Regions from separate parts of the Homo sapiens genome. Here region 2 is linked to region 1. Evidence: fine-mapped QTL for protein levels in blood plasma. A gene starts in region 1. The other region holds a variant in brackets. All regions are shown on one strand. Distances are between the middles of the regions. Region 1 holds the start of GALNT16 (polypeptide N-acetylgalactosaminyltransferase 16). Region 2 overlaps GALNT16 (polypeptide N-acetylgalactosaminyltransferase 16).

Region 1 (5,361 bases):
GGAGGGTAGTTCCCTTACATTTTCTTGGTTGACCTGAGAGGCCTGTGGAGCCTGATTCCCAAGGAGCAAGGTCTTTCCTGGCCTCCCACAAATGGCACCGCTGGATCTGCCCCATGATTCCTGCGGAAACCAGATGGAGGTTTGGCAGTGGTTTTCTCCATCTATGCAAACAAGCCCTGGCCCCTGGCGCAGTCTTATTAAACTCCCCAGGGGAGAGAGACCTGGGAGAGCATCTGGCGTCTCCAGACTCCTGCCCCTGTTGTGACTGCCACACCTTATGCCTGAAATTCCCTGCTACTTGTGTAGACCCTTTGTGAGGCCCTCTTTGTGCATTCTCTTCTTTCTAGGTCCCATTCCTGCGTGGGTCACTTTTGGACTTGTCTAAGTGTCATCGTAATTAGTCTTCTGAGTGAGGATATCGTATTGCAGTAATGACCCTGGGTTTTCCTCAGCAAAAACCCAACTAGGGTTTCTTCACCTCAACAGAAATGTATTGAGCATCTATTATATGTGCGGTTCAGTCTCGAGTGCTGGAGAAATGGAGAAAAGCCACCTGATTTTACTTCTATCTGTCAGGGTGGTGCTCATGGGATGCTTGTGGGGGGGCATGATGCTGTGACTTCAGTTTGCCTGATTCCCCAGATGGCTTCATTTAGAGGCTGGACCCTATGTGGGTCTTCGGAGTAGCCATGGTGTCCAGCAGTGCCAGCAGGAAGCAGACTCCTCAACAACTCTGCCCCGGCATTCAAGGACCTCCTGAGTTCAGACTCACCCAGCCTGGCCAACCTCAACTCCTATCAAATCCTAGGCCCCCTGCAACGCCTGGCAGCTCTCTCTCTTGAACACATCAAGCTCTTCCATCCTCTGGATTTTTGCAAGGCCTATTTCTGCAGTCTCTCCCCTGTCCTCACCTCCCCCTTCCTTACCTCTTAAGTGATTCATCCACCTTTCTGAGAGCTTTCCCAAAGGCCACCTTACAATAAATTATTTCTTCCTCTGTTGGATCCCTACTTTGTTGTTACACATCTATTCATTGAGCGCTCTGTGCCCGACACTGTGCTGGTTTCCTAAAACTCATCCAAGCCTCTTGCTTTCTGCCTGGAGTGAAGAGTAGTTCACGTTCTGATTCTCAGTGCCTCTAGGGCTGGAGCGGAATCTTAATGTCTGTGTCCTCGTCTCTCACCACCGCGTTTTGCACTTTGTCGAAAGGTGTCAGATGGTGAGATGGCTTCTAGACTGGGCTCTGCCCACTAATTAGCTGTGTGGCCTTGGGAGAATCATCCGGCCTCTCTTGCTGCCCTTCTTTCCGATGAAATAATGCTGACGATGATATTTCAGGGTTGTCCAGGGGTCAATGAGGCGGGATAGAGGGAAGCATCGTGAAATCTGGGAGCCCCAGGCCAGCGAAAAATGTGGAAGGGCCGTACCCGCACTCTCCTAGCACTGGGTGTGAGGCAGCGTCGTTTCCCCTTCGCGCTCTTCGAATGTCAAGTGCACCAGCTTCCAATCCCTCCTCTGGGCGGGCCCGGTCTGGCTAATCTCAGCTGCAGATTCCAGTACAAACTCAGGACTCTCCCCCGCCCAGCCGCCCCTACACAAGGACTCGCCGAACACACCTTGAATCCCGCGCCAGAGCGCAGCCCGGAACTGCAGCTCGCGGCGCGGGCCCAGGTCGGGGGTCGCGCGTCTCCAGTCGGTGACTCAAGGCCGCTCGGTCCGGGGGTGGGTGTGGGTCGGCAGGACCGACCAGGGCCGCGCGGGGGCAGCTGCCGGGCGTTCGGTCACCTAGCGGTGGGAGCCGAGGCTGGCTTTGGCCAGTCGCCATTCCGCCGCGGGCGTCTGTCTCGCCGGGTTCCCGGGCGCGGGAGGAAGGCCCGCGCCGCTTCCCACTCGGCGCGCTTCTCTCCCAGTGCGCAGTGGCCTGGTGGGTCAGCCGGCGGCGGCTGGAGCGCGGGGCCGGCCCTGCGCACGAATGAATGGGCGCCCGGGGGACGCGCGCGCTCGGGGCTGAAGGGCATTAGGACCGTGAGGATCGCTCCGCGATCCTGTCTCTCCCTATCACCCCCCCGCCCCCCCACCTCTCTCCTTTTTCTGCTCTGCAGGACTGAGCAGCTAGGCGCGAGCGAAAACAAACAGCTGGGGCTGCGAGCGCCCCCGCCCCGGCCCCGAGAGCACGCCGGCCCAGTCCCCCACCTGGGGCGCCCGTCTGCCCACCATGAGGAAGATCCGCGCCAATGCCATCGCCATCCTGACCGTAGCCTGGATCCTGGGCACTTTCTACTACTTATGGCAGGACAACCGAGCCCACGCAGCATCCTCCGGCGGCCGGGGCGCGCAGAGGGCAGGCAGGAGGTCGGAGCAGCTCCGCGAGGACCGCACCATCCCGCTCATTGTGAGTACGCCCCGAGCGTCGGCCGGCCGGCTAGGGAGCCGCGGCGCGCGTCCAGACCCTGCGCGGCGGCCGAGGGCGCGGGGCCCGGCCAGGGCTGAGTGCCCGCTGCGCCGGGCCGGCTTTGTATATGTTGGAGCATTCCTGCCCGTTGTTATGGCAACCTCTGCCGGGCGGCGGGGCTGGGGCGCACCGACTAAGGGAGGGTGACAGAGGGTGGGGGCTGGGAGAAAGTGCTGCAAGTTTGGTGGGCCCGGCGTGCGCGCGCGGCTGGGAACGTGGCGGCTCTCCCGGCTCTGCGCTGCCGGGGCCGGGAGTCTGGGGGCTGCGGGAGCCTCGTGTGCCCCGGAAGGCTGCCGGGCCCAGCGCGCGGCGAGCGGGCGGTGGGAACCACTCGCAGCCGAGCGCGTAGGTGGCAGTGCGCAGCCCCTCTCCAGCCTTCTGGGGGCAGAGGACATCGGGTGGGGGCGTGGGTAGGGGAAGGCTCTCTAGGCGCTGCGCCTGGCTTCGAACCCCCTTCTGAGCCGGGTCAACTTGAACCCGCTTCTTCGGCGCGGACACCCAGCTTCCCCGGAGTTCTCTGGGTTGAGGAGAGGTCTCGCACTGTACGCGTCTCTCACTCCCAACCTTAGGGTCCGCCACCACGGGTAGGTGGGCAGTGTCAGCGCCCGAACTTGGCGATACCCTTGCATGAAGTCAGCCTCGCGACATCTAAGCGGGCAGGGAAACAAAGGCAGTGTGGCACAGCGGGGGCGGCGGCGGGGCTGCGGGGGCCCTTGGCGCTCTGGGGACCCGGGCGGGGGCGTGCGGAGCCGCAGCCGCCCTGCAGGGGGCGATCCTGTCGCCGTCTCCGTCCGAGCCCCAGGTGACAGAGCTGTGCGTGGCCAGGCAGGGGCACCTGTTGAGGCGGGAGGCTTTGGCACCCGCCGAGAGTGCGCTCGAGCGGGCGCATTCTTCCAGACGGGGGCGGTTGGTGGACGAGAGCCTCGGACGACCCTCGGGAACTACCAGGGCGGGGCAGCCTGGCCGGATGAGGACCAGGAAGAGGAGAGCCGAGTGGGGCGGGGGTAAAGGAGTGAGGAAGCGTGGCGATTCCGACAAGGAAAGATCTGGGCCTGGGGGTGGAGGGGTGAGGAGATCCGCGGGGGAGGTGCAAGGTCCGGAGGGCTGAGGCTTGTGTGGAGCCGAATCCGAGAAACGCATCCAGACGCGGATCTGAACCCCAGGAATATCGGGAAGTTCATTGGAGAGTGTCCCCTCATATTCCCATCCTGCCCCAGATTCCGAGTCCCCTGCAAAGGAAACATTATTTCAGGGCTTTGCCTGAGGAGACCTGGGGCGGGGGGGTGAGGTTGTGGGTTTTGTCCTAGATACCAGTCTGGGTGAACTCTCTGGGGGCAAGCCTGATTAGGTGCACTGTTCCCTTCTGGGCTGTTCTCCCAGGACACTGTTTCCAAAGCACTTGTCGCCCTTTGGACAGAAAACTGATAAGGAAAAGCCTCCTGTGCTGAGGCCCCAGAGTGTTGTGATCTGAGCAGAGGGACAGGTTGGAGCTGGAACTGTCCAAACCAGCAGTGGCCTCCAGACCCCAGGGAGCTTCCTCTCCAGGAGCCCAGGCTGCCACATTCATACTCAGTGGCAGGAAGAGCCCTAGTCTCAGGCAAGGCAGGCTGGCCAGATGCTCTGTCCCTCTTTCTGGTGAGGCGATGAGAAGAGGGTCTGAGTTGGAAGGGGCGGAGAAAGAGGCTGGGCAGGGAGGAGAGGAGGGAAGAGAGCACAGGAGACTGCTGCTCAGAGCCTCTGCTTTGGAACCCGGAACCTGAACCCTGACCTGGCCCATGCACCTCTCTCCTGCTCCTTCCAGAGTCCTGTAAGATGCACTGGGAGGGCCGCTCACATTTCTCAAGAGTCCCAGAATGGTGTAGGGGACCTGCTGGAAGGATTCAGCACTCATTTTGAGGGGTGGGAATTGGAGGTCATGAGAATCACCAGTAAACATCCTCTTGTCCCTGCTTATTCCCACAGGGTTTGACTTGCTGCAGGTAAGAAAAGGTCTCAGAGCGGGAAGCTAAGTTTAAAGTATGAAGGAGTATCAGGGAGATACCTGGGAGCTGGGAAGTGAAGGTGCAGGAAGAAAGGGAGAATGGAAGTCCCTGGGAGTGGCAGAGCCTTCTGTGGCCACTTAGGGGCACAGCCAGCTCCCTCTTTGTTCTTAAGCTTTAGATGCCTGTTCCACCAGCACTGACCCCCCCGTCAGGCACCACTTTTGACAACTGCCTTGCATTGTTTCATTGTATTCCTCTCTTCCAGTTATTTCTTCCATGTGATTTGCAGCTGAATGTAAGTGATGCATGCGGGAACTGTGCTGGAAGCTCCTTGCATCCCCACATTGATGCACACAGCAAGATTTCTTTTTTTCTTTTTTTTTTTTTTGAGATGGAGTCTCACTCTGTCACCCAGGCTGGAGTGAGGTGGCATGATCTCGGCTCACTGTAACCTCCACCTCCCGGGTTCAAGCGATTCTCATGCCTCAGCCTCTCGAGCAGCTGGGATTACAGGCATGCGCCACCACTCTCAGCTAATTTTTGTATTTTTAGTAGAGATGGGGTTTCATCATGTTGCCCAGGCTGGTCTCAAACTCCTGACCTCATGTGATCCATTCACCTCAGCCTCCTAAAGTGCACAGCAAGGCTTCTTAAAGGAGTGAAATAGGATTCTCACCCATTTCTGGGGGCAGTCAATGCTTCACATCCCCCTAATATTATTGTATTATATTCATATCTCCTTAATATTTTATTATCAACTGTAACCTCTAAGTAAGGAGGTGGCTCTAAGTAAGGAGGTGGGGGATGTACGTTCAAGCTTCTGCAGGCATTGAATGCTTTGTTCAACTTAAAAGGGGCAGGTGCAGCTGAGGATTTACTTTCTCCCTGCAATTTGTGGTAACCGCTTATTCAGAAACATTTCTCTGT
Region 2 (5,361 bases), 66 kb after region 1:
CTTCCAGCACCCCAGGAGCTCAAATAAATGCATACGCAGAAACAACAGGGATGAAGTCTGGCAGGAATGAATTGTTTTCACTCCCTTTCTAGAGGAGAGGGAGCCAGTAGGCCAGAAAATGTGGTGTCTATGGATGGCTGGGGAGGGAGGAAGTGACGGGATAGGCCTTTGGTGTCTTAACAGAGGCTTGTTTCCTCCAGGGGACCCAGTACCCTGGGAGGAGTGAGACTGCTCCCCAGCTTGTTGTCTGCAGCAGGGCTGTCAGTGTTGGGCAGTGACAGGGAGGAATTCCCTGGCAGCCAGGGTAGGGGTGATTCCTCTGCAGATTCTACCAAATGTCCTGAGCTGGGAAGAGAGAAGGAAGAAACTCTAGGGTATCAGGACAAACAGAGGTAGTTTTCCCTCTCGCACATACCCCCCACCATACGACAGAGTGTGGTCAGGGCTGTATCCTGGGGCCTGGTGCAGTATCTGTATATACTAGGGAGCCCCCTCTGGGGGCTCTGAGATCTCTGGTAAAGAGCCCCCAGGCCTTGGAAGGTCTCCCAACCTGCTGCTTCCCTCCCAGGACCCCAGGATGGGTGGCATCGGGGTTCTGGGCCAGTGTGGGATGCAGCATGGGGGTGGAGGCGCGGGGCCTCTGGCCTGGCTGTTGGTGTGCCTTCTCTGCCTGGCAGAAGTATTCTCAGGCACAAGACTGGACAAAGAAAAACATTGACCTGCCCTGAGGATGCCCTCATGGCTGGCTCTGACCTCTGTGCTCCCTTCTCAGCTGCCCATCTGTGTCCTACTCCTCGGACCTGCCAGCCACCAGCGTCATCATCACCTTCCACAATGAGGCCCGTTCCACCCTGCTGCGCACAGTGAAGAGGTAAGTCCAGCCATGGGACTCTCATCTCAGTGGTGCTGGCAGGGGAGGACATTGGGATTGGGCGCTGTGGCCAGACAGCTTGAAGCCCAGCAGGTGCTGGAGGCTGAGTCCTGTACTTCTGAGAGGCTGAGACTGGTGAATCAGGGCCAGGAAGACCCCAGAAGTCAAACTGTTAGAGGAATGCGACAGTCAAACACCAGGTCAGATGTCCAGGACAAGGGCAGAAATGCAGGTGTCAGGAGCTGAGGGAGGCCGGGCTAGACAGGAGGCCTCAGGAGGGTGATGGAAGCCCAGCAGTGTCTGTCAGTGTCAGAGAGAGGTGGATTGGAGGTGGATTCTTCCTGCTAAGCCTGGGCTTGTGGTCAAGTTGAACTCCCATCTCCCCATTTCCTCAATGAACTTAGACAAGAATAGGATTCAGGTAGGAGCGCCCAGCATGCTGGCCCTGGAGCTGGGCGGCTGGGGAGTCCCACGGCCCCGGGAGTGGTAAAAATGGGAGGTGGTTCCTAAATCCAGGCTCTTTCTCTGTTTCCACTGCTACTGTAGTGTCCTGAACCGAACTCCTGCCAACTTGATCCAGGAGATCATTTTAGTGGATGACTTCAGCTCAGATCGTGAGTAGTCACCTTCCTTTTTGCAGCCCTCCATTCCGCCCTCGTCCCTGTTTCCCCAGAACACCAAGGCAAGCACCCTGAGGTTGTCCTGACCATCGCAGACACCTTTCTGCCCCCAGCAGGGATCCTGTCTTTTCTAGGACCCCTCCCTGGTCCTGTTCCCTGGTGTCAAAGGAGGGGAAAGAAGGGTGGGTGTTGCTTTGGATGGGACTCTAGTGAGATGATATTGTTTTTAAAAAGTAAAGAAAATCAACAGCATCCTTCATTATTACAACTGCCAAATGCAGATGATAGCTGGGCTGGTAGCCACCCCCAAGCGTGCTTTCTAGTGCTCCCTGAGGTGGAGTGGAGTACTGCCATAGGTACAGGCACTCCTCAGTCTGGCCTGAGAGTGGGGCAGGGCAACCCTTCGGCCAGTAGTGATGACCATACCTCTTCCCAATCCCCATCCCCAACCCTTTCCTGGGCTTAGTATGGGGCAATTTTCATGGCAGCCAAACCACTAGTGGCCTGATGCCCATGTCTAAATGAGCTTGCCTTCCTCTTTGCATCCTCAGCGGAAGACTGTCTACTCCTGACCAGGATCCCCAAGGTCAAGTGCCTGCGCAATGATCGGCGGGAAGGTGAGTCCTTGCACCCTGGGTCCCACCAAGGGCCCATCTTGGTGTCATCCTGTGCACTTCCCCACTCTCTCTTGGTGCCGTGGCACACCAAGCCAACATGGTCCTGCTGCATTCCTGATGGCTGAGACCAGGTTCTGCAGAAGACTCTCCTCCTTCCCAGATCAGCCCCATCAAGGCACAACTGTAGGCAAGTTGCTCCATCTCTGACTGCCTTAGCTGTCTCTCCTGAGAAATGGGATAAGACAGTCCCTTTCTGCCTTGCAAGGTGATTGTAAGGATTGCATGAGACAGGCTGTGTGGAAAGGCTTTGAGAAAAATCCAGAAGCATAAAGCAGATGTGATCTCACTTCCAATCCAGATGTGTTTTGGAGTAGCTACTACAGCGTGGCATTGTGCATGGCACTCTAGGGGACACGAAGGAAGTACAAAGCATAGTCCCTGCCCTCGGAGAGCTACTACATAGCCAAGGGGTCAGAATCCACTGCAGCCACAGGCTGGCTGTGGTTGTGTATGAATAGCATGGATATCAGAGGAGAGCTGGAGTGAGCAGGGAAGGCTTCCATGGAGGAATGGGCCTCAATGGGGTGTGGGGGCATCATGAGACAGGTAAAGGGGAGCAAGGGAGGGCATGCCAGCTTGTGCACTCTGCAAGCAAAGGCATCAGTCAGGGGTATGGGCATGCGCAATACTAACAGCCCCTTTCCTGAGGTCTCCTCCCCTGCGGGCATCC[G/A]GTTTGCTACTTTCAGTCCTTGTACTCAGCCCACTGTGCCTGTTGTACAGACAAGGGAACTGGGGTTTAAGGAGCTTCAGCGATTTGCCCAGGGTGATGAATAGAGCAGCCATGGCTCCAACCTGTGGGGCCCAACCCAAAGGCCAGCCGCCTACTCATACTCATACTCCCTTCCTGCGAGACCCCAGGCCTGGTCAGCATGGGGAATAGATGGAGTGAATTGAGATGATAGAAGACCTTGGAAGCCAGAAGAAAGCATTGACTTCATAAGGCAGAGGTAGCAGGGAGCCACTGAGGTTTTAGAGTAAGAGAGGGATGTGATTGATATGTTTAAAATAATCCCAGCACTTTGGGAGGCTGAGGCGGGCAGACCACTTGAGGTCAGGAGTTCAAGACTAGCCTGGCCAATGTGCTAAAACCCCGTCTCTACTAAAAATACGAAAATATCTGGGTGTGGTGGCACATGCCTGTAGCCCCAACTACTCAGGAGGCTGAGGCAGGAGAATCACTTGAACGCTTGAACCCAGGAGGCAGAGGTTGCAGTGAGCCAAGATTGCGCCACTGCACTCCAGCCTGGGTGACAGAGCGACACTCAGTTTCGAAAAAAAGAAAGAAAGAAAGAAAGACCAGTCAGGCCAAGGGGCCACAAGAATACCAGTGAGGGAGACCTTCAAACCAGAATGGAAGTGGCCGAAGTTAAATCCTTCCCAAGCCACTGGGCTGTAGGTACCGTCAGGTCTGGGAATATGCTGTCCCTGGATTTGACAACAGTAAATGTAAATTTATGACTCGATGCTTTGTAGACACTTTTGGAGTGGAGATTGATGGGCTTTTGGCTGGCTGGCGGGCTGGTAGGCAGCTAGAGGCAGAGTCTGGGGCAGAGGCATGGCTAGGGAAATGTCTCCAAGGAGCTGCTTATACTCAGAGCTCTAAGAGTGAGGCCCTTCCCTCCCACAGCTCACAGGGCACACATGGCCACTCTGGCAGGGGCAGGAGAAGCTGGGCCTCCTCCCTCCTGACCAGGCAGGTCTCCGCCCAGAGCAGAGTGCTGCCCAAAATGAGGCTGGTGAGGCTATCGGGGGACAGGCACAGAAGAACAGAACCTGACATGTGTGGGTCTCCCAGGCACCAAGCTCTGTCCCTGTCGTCTTGTTTGATCCTGACAGTCAGGGATTATTATCTCTCTGAATCTTATAGATAAGAAAACTGAGGCTCAGAGCGGTTAAATAACATGCTGAAGGTAAGGAAAGGGGCTGCCATACAAACTTAAGCCTATCTTAGTCTCGAAGATTATCTCCATGCTACACATAGGGGTATGGATGGAGGGGACGACCCAGAGGTTCCCATGGGAAAAAGTTTTGTTTTCTGGTTCTCCTTTGGGATCAAACTACTTTATTGCACTTTCCACGCTCTAAACTGTGACTGTTCATCAGTGTGTCCCTAGAGCCCAGACAGTGACTGGCACATAGAGGGCACTCGGGGTGTGACCCTGGAGTGATGGTGGTTGATGGGTGGATAAGAAGAAGCAAGGGAGGGAGGCAGGAAACAAGCAGAAGTATAAAGTCAAATCTAATCACAATAACTCAGGAAGCCTCAGCCCCTGAAGGAGAGGAGAGCCTTGGGACTTTGGGGGACAGGTGGGAAGCCAGTTGGCCCAGTCCCAGCGCCAAGCCCTATCTACTCCTCTTGTAGGGCTGATCCGGTCCCGAGTGCGTGGGGCGGACGTGGCTGCAGCTACCGTTCTCACCTTTCTGGATAGCCACTGCGAAGTGAACACCGAGTGGCTGCCGCCCATGCTGCAGCGGGTGAAGGAGGTGAGCCACTGTCTCTGGGGAGCTGGGCGTCCTTGGGGACTCAGCCACTACGTTCCTGGCACCGAGGCCTATGGGACAGTATTTGAAGCTGGGCAGGCATCGTAGGAAGCCCAAATAGTCTACTTCCCCCTGAGTGACTTCACCTTATTGAGTTTTCTCATCTGAAAATGGGGATAATTGTCATAATTATCCCACTGGGTTATTGTGAGAATGAAATTGGATGAAAGCCTGGGTGAGCTACAAAGCTCCTGCTACAAATGGGTGTTGTTTTTCTCCTTGGAGAGTTAGGATCCTGTGCTGGGAGAGCTTTTGTTCGGGCTGGGAAGCCCTTGCAAGAGGGAGCAGAGGATGTTGTTCTCAAAGAGAGGAGAGGGTAGGAGGGCCCCTGCCACGTGCCTACTGTTCTCCAGAACAGGGAGGATTTGGACAGATGGCAGAAAAGGATGAGGTGATAACAACCCGACCATAAAAAGACAAATAACCCAATTTAAAAATTGGCAAAGGGGCCTGGAGCGGTGGCTCACCCCTGTAATCCCAGCACTTTGGGAGGCCGGGGAGGGCAGATCACCTGAGATCGGGAGTTCAAGACCAGCCTGGCCAACATGGTGAAACCCCATCTCTACAAAAGTACAAAAAGTAGCTGGGCATGACGGCGGGTGCCTGTGCTCCCAGCTACTTGGGAGGCAGAGGCGGGAGAATCACCTGGTCC

Evidence for each region. PIP is the posterior inclusion probability: the model's chance that the variant is causal. Protein levels are from the aptamer-based SomaScan assay of Sun 2018.
Region 2: its variant is fine-mapped to the plasma level of the GALNT16 protein (Sun 2018, PIP 0.95).

What each region holds. Positions count from the first base shown.
Region 1 is chr14:69,258,076-69,263,436 of GRCh38, forward strand. It overlaps GALNT16 (polypeptide N-acetylgalactosaminyltransferase 16), which reads left to right and starts at 2,083. Exons shown (of 15, transcript NM_001168368.2): 1 at 2,083-2,392. The coding sequence starts at 2,216. It overlaps GALNT16-AS1 (GALNT16 and EXD2 antisense RNA 1), which reads right to left and starts at 2,452. Exons shown (of 4, transcript NR_184249.1): 1 at 2,215-2,452. RefSeq lists a silencer at 3,129-3,188.
Region 2 is chr14:69,323,920-69,329,280 of GRCh38, forward strand. GALNT16 (polypeptide N-acetylgalactosaminyltransferase 16) reads left to right here. Exons shown (of 15, transcript NM_001168368.2): 3 at 773-871; 4 at 1,418-1,485; 5 at 2,043-2,108; 6 at 4,531-4,652. Among named protein-coding and RNA genes, the nearest start is that of GALNT16-AS1, 66 kb to the left of the region's middle. The variant G/A (reference allele first, on the strand shown) is at 2,839.